Linked DNA regions of Homo sapiens. The protein of the gene in region 1 interacts with the protein of each later gene in a pairwise test. Each region holds a gene or a part of one and is shown in the gene's direction. Other genes may lie near its edges. The genes, in order: ALB, IMMT and WFS1.

Region 1 (3,751 bases):
GTTGACATAATTTATCCAAGAAAGAATTATTTTCTTAACTTAGAATAGTTTCTTTTTTCTTTTCAGATGTAGGTTTTTCTGGCTTTAGAAAAAATGCTTGTTTTTCTTCAATGGAAAATAGGCACACTTGTTTTATGTCTGTTCATCTGTAGTCAGAAAGACAAGTCTGGTATTTCCTTTCAGGACTCCCTTGAGTCATTAAAAAAAATCTTCCTATCTATCTATGTATCTATCATCCATCTAGCTTTGATTTTTTCCTCTTCTGTGCTTTATTAGTTAATTAGTACCCATTTCTGAAGAAGAAATAACATAAGATTATAGAAAATAATTTCTTTCATTGTAAGACTGAATAGAAAAAATTTTCTTTCATTATAAGACTGAGTAGAAAAAATAATACTTTGTTAGTCTCTGTGCCTCTATGTGCCATGAGGAAATTTGACTACTGGTTTTGACTGACTGAGTTATTTAATTAAGTAAAATAACTGGCTTAGTACTAATTATTGTTCTGTAGTATCAGAGAAAGTTGTTCTTCCTACTGGTTGAGCTCAGTAGTTCTTCATATTCTGAGCAAAAGGGCAGAGGTAGGATAGCTTTTCTGAGGTAGAGATAAGAACCTTGGGTAGGGAAGGAAGATTTATGAAATATTTAAAAAATTATTCTTCCTTCGCTTTGTTTTTAGACATAATGTTAAATTTATTTTGAAATTTAAAGCAACATAAAAGAACATGTGATTTTTCTACTTATTGAAAGAGAGAAAGGAAAAAAATATGAAACAGGGATGGAAAGAATCCTATGCCTGGTGAAGGTCAAGGGTTCTCATAACCTACAGAGAATTTGGGGTCAGCCTGTCCTATTGTATATTATGGCAAAGATAATCATCATCTCATTTGGGTCCATTTTCCTCTCCATCTCTGCTTAACTGAAGATCCCATGAGATATACTCACACTGAATCTAAATAGCCTATCTCAGGGCTTGAATCACATGTGGGCCACAGCAGGAATGGGAACATGGAATTTCTAAGTCCTATCTTACTTGTTATTGTTGCTATGTCTTTTTCTTAGTTTGCATCTGAGGCAACATCAGCTTTTTCAGACAGAATGGCTTTGGAATAGTAAAAAAGACACAGAAGCCCTAAAATATGTATGTATGTATATGTGTGTGTGCATGCGTGAGTACTTGTGTGTAAATTTTTCATTATCTATAGGTAAAAGCACACTTGGAATTAGCAATAGATGCAATTTGGGACTTAACTCTTTCAGTATGTCTTATTTCTAAGCAAAGTATTTAGTTTGGTTAGTAATTACTAAACACTGAGAACTAAATTGCAAACACCAAGAACTAAAATGTTCAAGTGGGAAATTACAGTTAAATACCATGGTAATGAATAAAAGGTACAAATCGTTTAAACTCTTATGTAAAATTTGATAAGATGTTTTACACAACTTTAATACATTGACAAGGTCTTGTGGAGAAAACAGTTCCAGATGGTAAATATACACAAGGGATTTAGTCAAACAATTTTTTGGCAAGAATATTATGAATTTTGTAATCGGTTGGCAGCCAATGAAATACAAAGATGAGTCTAGTTAATAATCTACAATTATTGGTTAAAGAAGTATATTAGTGCTAATTTCCCTCCGTTTGTCCTAGCTTTTCTCTTCTGTCAACCCCACACGCCTTTGGCACAATGAAGTGGGTAACCTTTATTTCCCTTCTTTTTCTCTTTAGCTCGGCTTATTCCAGGGGTGTGTTTCGTCGAGATGCACGTAAGAAATCCATTTTTCTATTGTTCAACTTTTATTCTATTTTCCCAGTAAAATAAAGTTTTAGTAAACTCTGCATCTTTAAAGAATTATTTTGGCATTTATTTCTAAAATGGCATAGTATTTTGTATTTGTGAAGTCTTACAAGGTTATCTTATTAATAAAATTCAAACATCCTAGGTAAAAAAAAAAAAAGGTCAGAATTGTTTAGTGACTGTAATTTTCTTTTGCGCACTAAGGAAAGTGCAAAGTAACTTAGAGTGACTGAAACTTCACAGAATAGGGTTGAAGATTGAATTCATAACTATCCCAAAGACCTATCCATTGCACTATGCTTTATTTAAAAACCACAAAACCTGTGCTGTTGATCTCATAAATAGAACTTGTATTTATATTTATTTTCATTTTAGTCTGTCTTCTTGGTTGCTGTTGATAGACACTAAAAGAGTATTAGATATTATCTAAGTTTGAATATAAGGCTATAAATATTTAATAATTTTTAAAATAGTATTCTTGGTAATTGAATTATTCTTCTGTTTAAAGGCAGAAGAAATAATTGAACATCATCCTGAGTTTTTCTGTAGGAATCAGAGCCCAATATTTTGAAACAAATGCATAATCTAAGTCAAATGGAAAGAAATATAAAAAGTAACATTATTACTTCTTGTTTTCTTCAGTATTTAACAATCCTTTTTTTTCTTCCCTTGCCCAGACAAGAGTGAGGTTGCTCATCGGTTTAAAGATTTGGGAGAAGAAAATTTCAAAGCCTTGTAAGTTAAAATATTGATGAATCAAATTTAATGTTTCTAATAGTGTTGTTTATTATTCTAAAGTGCTTATATTTCCTTGTCATCAGGGTTCAGATTCTAAAACAGTGCTGCCTCGTAGAGTTTTCTGCGTTGAGGAAGATATTCTGTATCTGGGCTATCCAATAAGGTAGTCACTGGTCACATGGCTATTGAGTACTTCAAATATGACAAGTGCAACTGAGAAACAAAAACTTAAATTGTATTTAATTGTAGTTAATTTGAATGTATATAGTCACATGTGGCTAATGGCTACTGTATTGGACAGTACAGCTCTGGAACTTGCTTGGTGGAAAGGACTTTAATATAGGTTTCCTTTGGTGGCTTACCCACTAAATCTTCTTTACATAGCAAGCATTCCTGTGCTTAGTTGGGAATATTTAATTTTTTTTTTTTTTTAAGACAGGGTCTCGCTCTGTCGCCCAGGCTGGAGTGCAGTGGCGCAATCTCGGCTCACTGCAAACTCCGCCTCCCGGGTTCACGCCATTCTCCTGCCTCAGCCTCCCGAGTAGCTGGGACTACAGGCGCCCGCCATCACGCCCGGCTAATCTTTTGTATTTTTAGTAGAGATGGGGTTTCACCGTGTGCCAGGATGGTCTCAATCTCCTGACATCGTGATCTGCCCACCTCGGCCTCCCAAAGTGCTGGGATTACAGGAGTGAGCCACCGCGCCCGGCCTATTTAAATGTTTTTTAATCTAGTAAAAAATGAGAAAATTGTTTTTTTAAAAGTCTACCTAATCCTACAGGCTAATTAAAGACGTGTGTGGGGATCAGGTGCGGTGGTTCACACCTGTAATCCCAGCACTTTGGAAGGCTGATGCAGGAGGATTGCTTGAGCCCAGGAGTTCAAGACCAGCCTGGGCAAGTCTCTTTAAAAAAAACAAAACAAACAAACAAAAAAATTAGGCATGGTGGCACATGCCTGTAGTCCTAGCTACTTAGGAGGCTGACGTAGGAGGATCGTTTGGACCTGAGAGGTCAAGGCTACAGTGAGCCATGATTGTGCCACTGCACTCCAGCCTGGGTGACAGAGTGAGACTCTGTCTCAAAAAAGAAAAAGGAAATCTGTGGGGTTTGTTTTAGTTTTAAGTAATTCTAAGGACTTTAAAAATGCCTAGTCTTGACAATTAGATCTATTTGGCATACAATTTGCTTGCTTAATCTATGTGTGTGCATAGA
Region 2 (3,651 bases), on another chromosome or scaffold:
AATGTGTTCATGAATTTTTTTTTAATTTAAAAAGATTTTTTAGAGATGGGGTCTCATTATGTTTCCCAGGCTGGTCTTCAGCTTCTGGGCTCAAGTGATATGCCCACCTCGGCCTCCCAAAGTGGAATTTTTCTTAATCTGTGTAAGTGGATGTGACCTCCCTTTAAACATCCCATAGATTTTCAAACCTCTGATTATATATTCAGATTCTCCAGAGAAACAGAAACAATAAGGGTGTGTGTGTGTGTGTAGAGATAGGGTCTCATTCTGTTGCCCAGGCTGGAGTACAGCAGTGTGATCATAACTCATTGCAGTCTCAATCTCCTGGGCTTAAGCGATCCTCCCACCTCACCTCCTGAGTAGCTGGGACTACAGGCTTATGCCACCATGCCCAGCCAATGTTTTGGACTTTTAGTAGAGATGGGATCTCGCAATGTTGTTCCAGCTCATTTTGAACTTCTGGGCTCAAGCAATATCCCCACCTTCTCCTCCCCAAAGTGCTGGGATTACAGGCGTGAGCCATAGTGCCCAGCCTAGGAAGATTTATTATTTATTTATTAATTTTTTTTGAGATGGAGTCTTGCTCTGTCACCCAGGCTGGAGTGCAGTGGCGCCATTTCAGCACACTGCAAGCTCCGCCTCCCGGGTTCATGCCATTCTCCTGCCTCAGCCTCCCAAGTAGCTGGGACTACAGGCGCCTGCCACCACGCCTAATTTTTTTTTTTTTTTTTTTTTTGTATTTTTAGTAGAGACGGGGTTTCACCGTGTTAGCCAGGATAGTCTCGATCTCCTGACCTTGTGATCCCCCCACCTTGGCCTCCCAAAGTGCTGGGATTACAGGCGTGAGCCACCGCGCCTGGCTGAAAGATTTATTGTAAGGACTCTACTCACACAGTTATGGAGACTGGCAAGTCCAGAATCTGCTGTGTGGTTTGGCAGACTGGAGACCTAGGACAGCCAATATTGCAGTTGCAGTCTGCTGGCCAGCAGCCTGGAAACCCAGGAGAGTGGATGGTGCAGTTTCAGTCTGGAGGCAGTCTGCTAGAGAATTGCCTCTTGCTTTTTGTTGTTTTTGAGCCCTCAACTGATTGAATGAAGCCCACCCATGTTATAGGGCAAATTTTTTTTTTTTTTTTTTTGAGATAGGGTCTTGCTCTGTCACCCAGGCTGGAGTGCATTGGTGCAATCTCAGCTCACTACAACCTCCATCCACCAGACTCAAGCCATCCTCCCACCTCAGCCTCCTGAGTAGCTAGGACTGCAGGCATGCACCACCACACCCAGCTAACTTTTGTATTTTTTTTTCTGTAGAGACAGGCTATATTACCCAGGCTGGTCTCAAACTCCTGGGCTCAAGCAATCCACCCGCCTTTGCCTCCCAAAGTGATGGGATTACAGGAGTGAGCCACCATGCCTGGCCACTAGTTCACCAATTAAAATGTTAATCTCATCCAAAAACACAGTCCAAGTTGACACATAAAATGAACCATCACAGATAGTATCTACCTTATTCTTTGCCCAGGCTGGAATGCAGTGGTGCAATCTCGGCTCACTGCAACCTCCGCCTCCTGGGTTCTAGCAATTCTCCTGCCTCAGTCTCTCGAGTAACTGGGACTGCAGGCACGTGCCACTGTGCCCAGCTAATATTTTGTATTTTTAGTAGAGACAGGGTTTCACCATATTAGCCGGGATGGTCTCGATCTCCTGACGTCGTGATCTGCCCGCCTTGGGCTCCCAAAGTGCTGGGATTACAGGCTTAAGTCACTGCACCCGACACAGTATCTGCCTTATTCTTTATGTTTGGGCTTATCATCCTTGCATTCCTTAGATGTGGGTATTCAGTAAATGTGCTTTAGAACTCTGGTCCCTCTGTTTTTGTTTTCTTCTTTTATTCCTCAGACCTAACACCATCTTTCTTCTCTTAGTCCCAATACTGCATCACCAGGCCCAGCCTTTTTGAAGTGGTCATTGAGTTTGGAGGACATGGGCTTTCCGCCTAGCCTAGCCTTCTCTCAAACTACAAACCTGGAAGTGGTCATTTACATATGGAGTAGTCTTTCCTGCTTATAACTTGAAAGAAGAAGAAGAAACATTATTATTCTTGAGGATCAACCGCTCCAGCTTACTTAAGACCAAGTTTGATAACCCAGCTAGTTTAGGATTGAACTTGTGTGTGGACATGAGCTATCATCTTCTAGAATTCCTTCTTTCTGTTAGGATTATGAAACATTATGTTACTCAGTGATAGAGATAGGCAGCCAACCACACGTGCTAGAAAGTAGTTTAGTAGATCATGCGGCCAGGTGTTTGCTTCTACCCATGCTAGAATCCTCTTCATTGTTCCTTTTTTCATATCTCTAGACCAGTAGCCTTCAAACCATTTTGAAATACATCTTACGCCGTAACTTACTACACCGAAGTGATAACATACAAAATATATTCACATATGTGCAGGGAAAACTAAAGTGTCAAGTTCCTGCTTTTGTCATACTGATAAGTATCTGCCATTTCTATAACTAAAGAGCACGTGTTCTCCTAGAATAGAATATGTTTATACTGAAATGTAATGCTGCTTCAATGTAAAATTGTAATGTAAAATGTAAAATTTCAATGTAAAAACTTACTGGATTTTTTTGTGGGATATACTTTTTAACCTTAATGCATGATTCTTATAAACTATTTTAAATTAACAGTAGAAAAAGTTAATTTGTTGTATATCAATCTATATTTCAAATGTAGAACTGCCCATTAACTTATGGGTGCCTTTTTCGTTTGTGTGGGAGGAGTCCTTATGTATGACAAGATCCACAAAAACGTTATCAGTTGACAGCAACCAGCAGTCTGTGGAGGAAACCTGGAACCTCTAGTTAGAGTTCACATGAGGCAGCTCATACTACAGGCTCCATGTCCAGGTTGTCATGCTAGATTGTGGTTTCTTTATGTCTTCACTTTAGTTTGGTAGAGCTAAGGAACAGATGGTCTGTGTAACAGCATTAATCATGGGGCGGAACACTTGAGGTCAGGAGTTCAAGACCAGCCTGGCCAATATGGTGAAACCCCGTCTCTACTAAAAATACAAAAATTAGCCGGGTGTGGTGGCAGGTGCCTGTAATCCCAGCTGCCCGGGAGGCTGAGGCAGGAGAATCTCTTAAACCCAGGAGATGGAGGTTGCAGTGAGCCGAGATCACACCATTGCACTCCAGCCTGGGTGTCACAGCGAGACTCCATCTCAAAAAAAAAAAGAACATTACATGGGAATTATATGTTTCCTCTTTTTTTTAATATCACGTTTCTGCGGGTTAGAAGCAGCAAGGCTAACCTTATAACATATGTCTAGACAGATTGCTTTGAAACAGTGTTGTCCTTTCTATGTCATAGGTCCTTATTAATAAAAAGGAATTCCAGGACAAAAAAGTAGCCAATATTTTGTGTGTTAATGTAGGATATTTAGTTTATGTTAATAGTTTAGTACTTAAGAGAGCTCTGGAGACAGACCTTATGTTTGGCAATGGTTTCTTAACTATAACACCAAAAGCACAAGCAACAAGAGAAACTAAAGATAAATTGGACTTCATTAAAATTTTAAATTTTTGTGCATCAGAGGGATACTTGAGAGTGAAAAGGATGAAAGTATTCTAATGGATACTAGAT
Region 3 (3,651 bases), about 67 Mb from region 1:
ACCTTTTCCTTGTCTCAAAACGTTCATGTACGAGGTCACGTTTACCAGCTGTACAGCGTTGCACCATATGGAGGGGTGTAGGCTTTATAGCCAGCCCCTTTCTGGACAGTGCTGAAAGTGCCATATGATGGACATTGTGTGTGAGCCCCGAGGGCATCTCCAGTGACTCCCCTGGACTGGCATCCTGGAGGCAGAGGCACTGATCAGAGAGAGTGAACATCATCTTGGCTTCCCACAGGGGCTGTTTCTGAGGCACTGGCTTGGGAGATGGGGTTGCCCCCCCAGAGAGAACAGAATGGGGGTGGCCTGGGTGAGGGCCAGAGCCCTTAGGGCAGAAGGCCACGTGTGGTCATTCTGCTGCGGGTCTGAGTGGATGCATGGTGCCTGCAGCCCTCTCCAGGTGGCGGCCTCTCAGCTGAACTCCTTGGTGCCGGTGTTTGTGTTTGGACGGGATAAAAATATGCCTCATTGCTCATGAGGAAAGAATGCTAGCAACTTTGGTTTTGTGGATCTTACACAGTGACGGCTTCTAAGCCATTGCTGTGGTCACCAGTAGGGAGTTGGGGCTGAGTGCCCCACCGTGCAGGTGGGGATCTGAGGGTGCAGAGTGGATGCAGCTGGAGATGCCTGGATGCTGGGGTCTGGGGGAGGGACTTGCTAAGGTCCCACAGCATTATTGCCTGGATGGTGCTCCTGCCCTAGGCCAGGCTGCCTCAGGCTTCTGCCCACATGCATTAAGTGCTTAACGTATTCCTGGCAAGGCAGCCGGTCTTCCGAGTGGATAAGCTGCAGCCCTGCCCTCAGGGCTCACAGTGGCTGTAACATGCAGGAAGACTCAGAGAGGGAAGGACCAGACAGCAGGTCCTTCCACCGGGAGATCTTTTCTGATCTTCATTGTCCCTGTGACCAACCATGACCAGGAATTGTTGTGCTTGTTTTGAAATAACAAGCCCTTTGATCCAAACCAGACTTGGCCAACCCCCAGGGAACCTGAAAATTAATCCTCCTGTATTCATCCATTCTTACTAACCAGAGATTTTACTTTAAACAGTTTTTTTTTAACTGCAGTGTGACATACATGGTACATAGGCCAGCTAGAATCTGTTTTCCTGAAATTCCTTTTATGAAGTGTTTTCCAACTGAACATGCCTTTGTTTAGCACCTGGGAGTAATGGCTTAGGGTTTTTCTTTTCCTTTTTCTTTTTTCTTTTTTTTGAGACGGAGTCTCGCTTTGTCACCCAGGCTGGAGTGCAGTGGCGCGATCTCGGCTCACTGCAAGCTCCATCTCCTGGGTTCACACCATTCTCCTGCCTCAGCCTCCCCAGTAGTTGGGACTATCGGCGCCCGCCACCACGCCTGGCTAATTTTTTTGTATTTTTAATAGAGACGGGGTTTCACTGTGTTAGCCAGGATGGTCTTGATCTCCTGACCTTGTGATCTGCCCGCCTCGGCCTCCCAAAGTGCTGGGATTACAGGCGTGAGCCACCGCGCCTGGCCGGCTTAGTTTTTTTTTAATGCCCAATAGTTTGCTTTCTCTTCTGCCACACACGTAATCCCCATAGCACCCCTATGTGGGAGGTGCTATCCCCATTTTACATATGGGGAAACAGACACAGTGAGGTCATGTGGCCACTAGTAAGGGTAACCGACGCCCCACACCATGTTGCTTCCAGCTGTAACCTCTAGCAGAGGGAGGGCTCTGATGGAGAGGTGATCGCCTGAGTGCTGTGTGTTTACCTGAGTAGGTGAGGAAGACAGGGACTCGGGACAGACATAGCTTGGAAGCTCCCACAAAGGAGGTATCGCTGGAGCTCTTGACTTGAAGGGTGCTTAGGGTCTAGGCTGGGGGAGGGGGGTAAGAAGGCATTCCGGGAAGAGGGCCCTGCAGAAACAGAAGTGTGGAGGTCAGCATTTGTATGCTGATGTTGAAGGGTAGCCAGTGTTTTGCAGTGAATGGGCCCCGGGAGAGAGGGTGCAGTGGCATGGCGGTCTGATTTCAAAGTCGTCTTTTTCAGAAATGAGCTTGCAGAAGCATTAGAATTGGGCAGGTCTGGATTTGAATTTCAGGTCTGGTACCTGGAGCTGTTTGACCTTGAGCAGGTCCCTCCCCTCCCTGCACCTGGGTTCCTGTCTGTGAAGTGGGGTGAGGTTGAAGGATAAAACATTTCCCCATCTATAACTCTGGGATGACAATAGGATCTACCTTCCAGGTCCATGCGAGGAACTCACGACAATAGGACCTACCTTCCAGGGCCATACGAGAAACTCATGAGAAAAGACAAGTACAGAGAACAGAGCCGTTGGTCTTGATGGCAGAGATGCCCTGGCGTAGGTCAGCCCTCAGTAAAGGTGCCCTCTCTCTCTGTCTGAGAAAGTGACACCTGACTTCGGGGCAGTGGGAACCATGGGAGAGAAGGTAGACAAGGCCACGTGTCATTTGAAGACCTGACTTTTCACCATCTCAGGTGGTCCGGTGGCCTGCAGGACCGTGGTTCTGTTTGCCCACAGCGTGTGGGTTCTACGTGCGATCCTGTATTTCTCTGCCACAGCTGACTAAGGGGACACTTAGGTCTGCACGTGCAGTTAAATGGCTGCTTTTGTGGAAGGTGCCAGTTCCCGGGAGCTGGGAACTTGGAAACAGGATGGAGCAGGCTCCCAAGCTTGACCATGCATGGTTTGCACCTGGGGGATGCACCCGGGGGTGCTTGACCATGCATGGTTTGCACCTGGGGGATGCACGGGGGTGGGGTGGGGGGGGGGGGTGTGCTTGACCATGCATGGTTTGCACCTGGGGGATGTTTTACACTAAGGGCTCAGTCCCTCTGAGGGAGGAACGTGTGGATTGAAATCTGCAGAGTTCTTGAGCGACACCAGTCTGATCTTTAGGACTCATTTGCAGCGGGAATGGAGCAGAAATTGTTGTGTGTGGAGCCTGGGGCCACTCCTGACTCTTCCAGTCACAGCTGCCCCCAAAAGTGACCTCTGGGCACCTACTCAGACCTGGCTGCTCAGTGCCAAGCGCTGGGTGTTCAGAGGTGGCCAGGGGACTCCCTCGTGCTGCCCATGGTGTCTGGTCTCACTGGTCCTCACAGTTGCCCCGTCCCCATTTTCAGATGAGGAGGCTGAGGTGCAGAGCGGGATGTGGGCTGCTCAGGACCACACAGCTGGTGGGCACAGAGCCAGGAGTACAGCGCTGCGGCAGCTTGGGGCTGGGAGCGAGACTCTCTGTTACCAGCCTCTCCCTGCTCTGTGCCTCAGAGGATGGCTGTGGCCCTGAGCTTGGGAGGGTCATTTGGGAATCTGAGGAAAAGTTTCCACAGCCTCACACAGCAGCAGGTTCAAGGTCCAGCAGTGCCAGGGGTTTGCATCCCACCCCTAACGCCGCTCATCCAGGGCCCATCCGGGTCCGGGGCTCGGGATCCTGCAGCGCTTTCAGCTCTGTGTCTGTGGCCGGTGGTTGTCCTTCATTACAGGGATGGTGGTGTTTTTCCATGTTGCTAAGCAGCATGTGAGGGCCTCTGTTGAATAAAATAAAGCCCTTGCTCCGGCGTGACACGGGTCACGGGATCTCTGCTCACTCTAGTCTCTTCTGATGCCCCCACCGCACTGTTTGCCTTAGTTTGCTTTTTACTCTCTGTGTTGGTTTCTGGG

What was found.
Region 2: the proteins of ALB (region 1) and IMMT interact in a two-hybrid assay, tested with the Homo sapiens proteins (one large-scale study listed by BioGRID and IntAct).
Region 3: the proteins of ALB (region 1) and WFS1 interact in binary tests that used the Homo sapiens proteins (3 or more experiments, as listed by UniProt).

The regions. Positions count from the first base shown.
Region 1 is NC_000004.12:73,402,640-73,406,390, forward strand, and holds the start of ALB (albumin preproprotein), read left to right. Parts: upstream 1-1,647; 5' UTR 1,648-1,688; coding exon 1,689-1,767; intron 1,768-2,476; coding exon 2,477-2,534; intron 2,535-3,751. UniProt on the Homo sapiens protein: Binds water, Ca(2+), Na(+), K(+), fatty acids, hormones, bilirubin and drugs. Its main function is the regulation of the colloidal osmotic pressure of blood. Major zinc transporter in plasma, typically binds about 80% of all plasma zinc.
Region 2 is NC_000002.12:86,188,833-86,192,483, reverse strand, and holds part of IMMT (MICOS complex subunit MIC60), read left to right. Parts: intron 1-3,651. UniProt on the Homo sapiens protein: Component of the MICOS complex, a large protein complex of the mitochondrial inner membrane that plays crucial roles in the maintenance of crista junctions, inner membrane architecture, and formation of contact sites to the outer membrane.
Region 3 is NC_000004.12:6,272,850-6,276,500, forward strand, and holds part of WFS1 (wolframin), read left to right. Parts: intron 1-3,651. UniProt on the Homo sapiens protein: Participates in the regulation of cellular Ca(2+) homeostasis, at least partly, by modulating the filling state of the endoplasmic reticulum Ca(2+) store.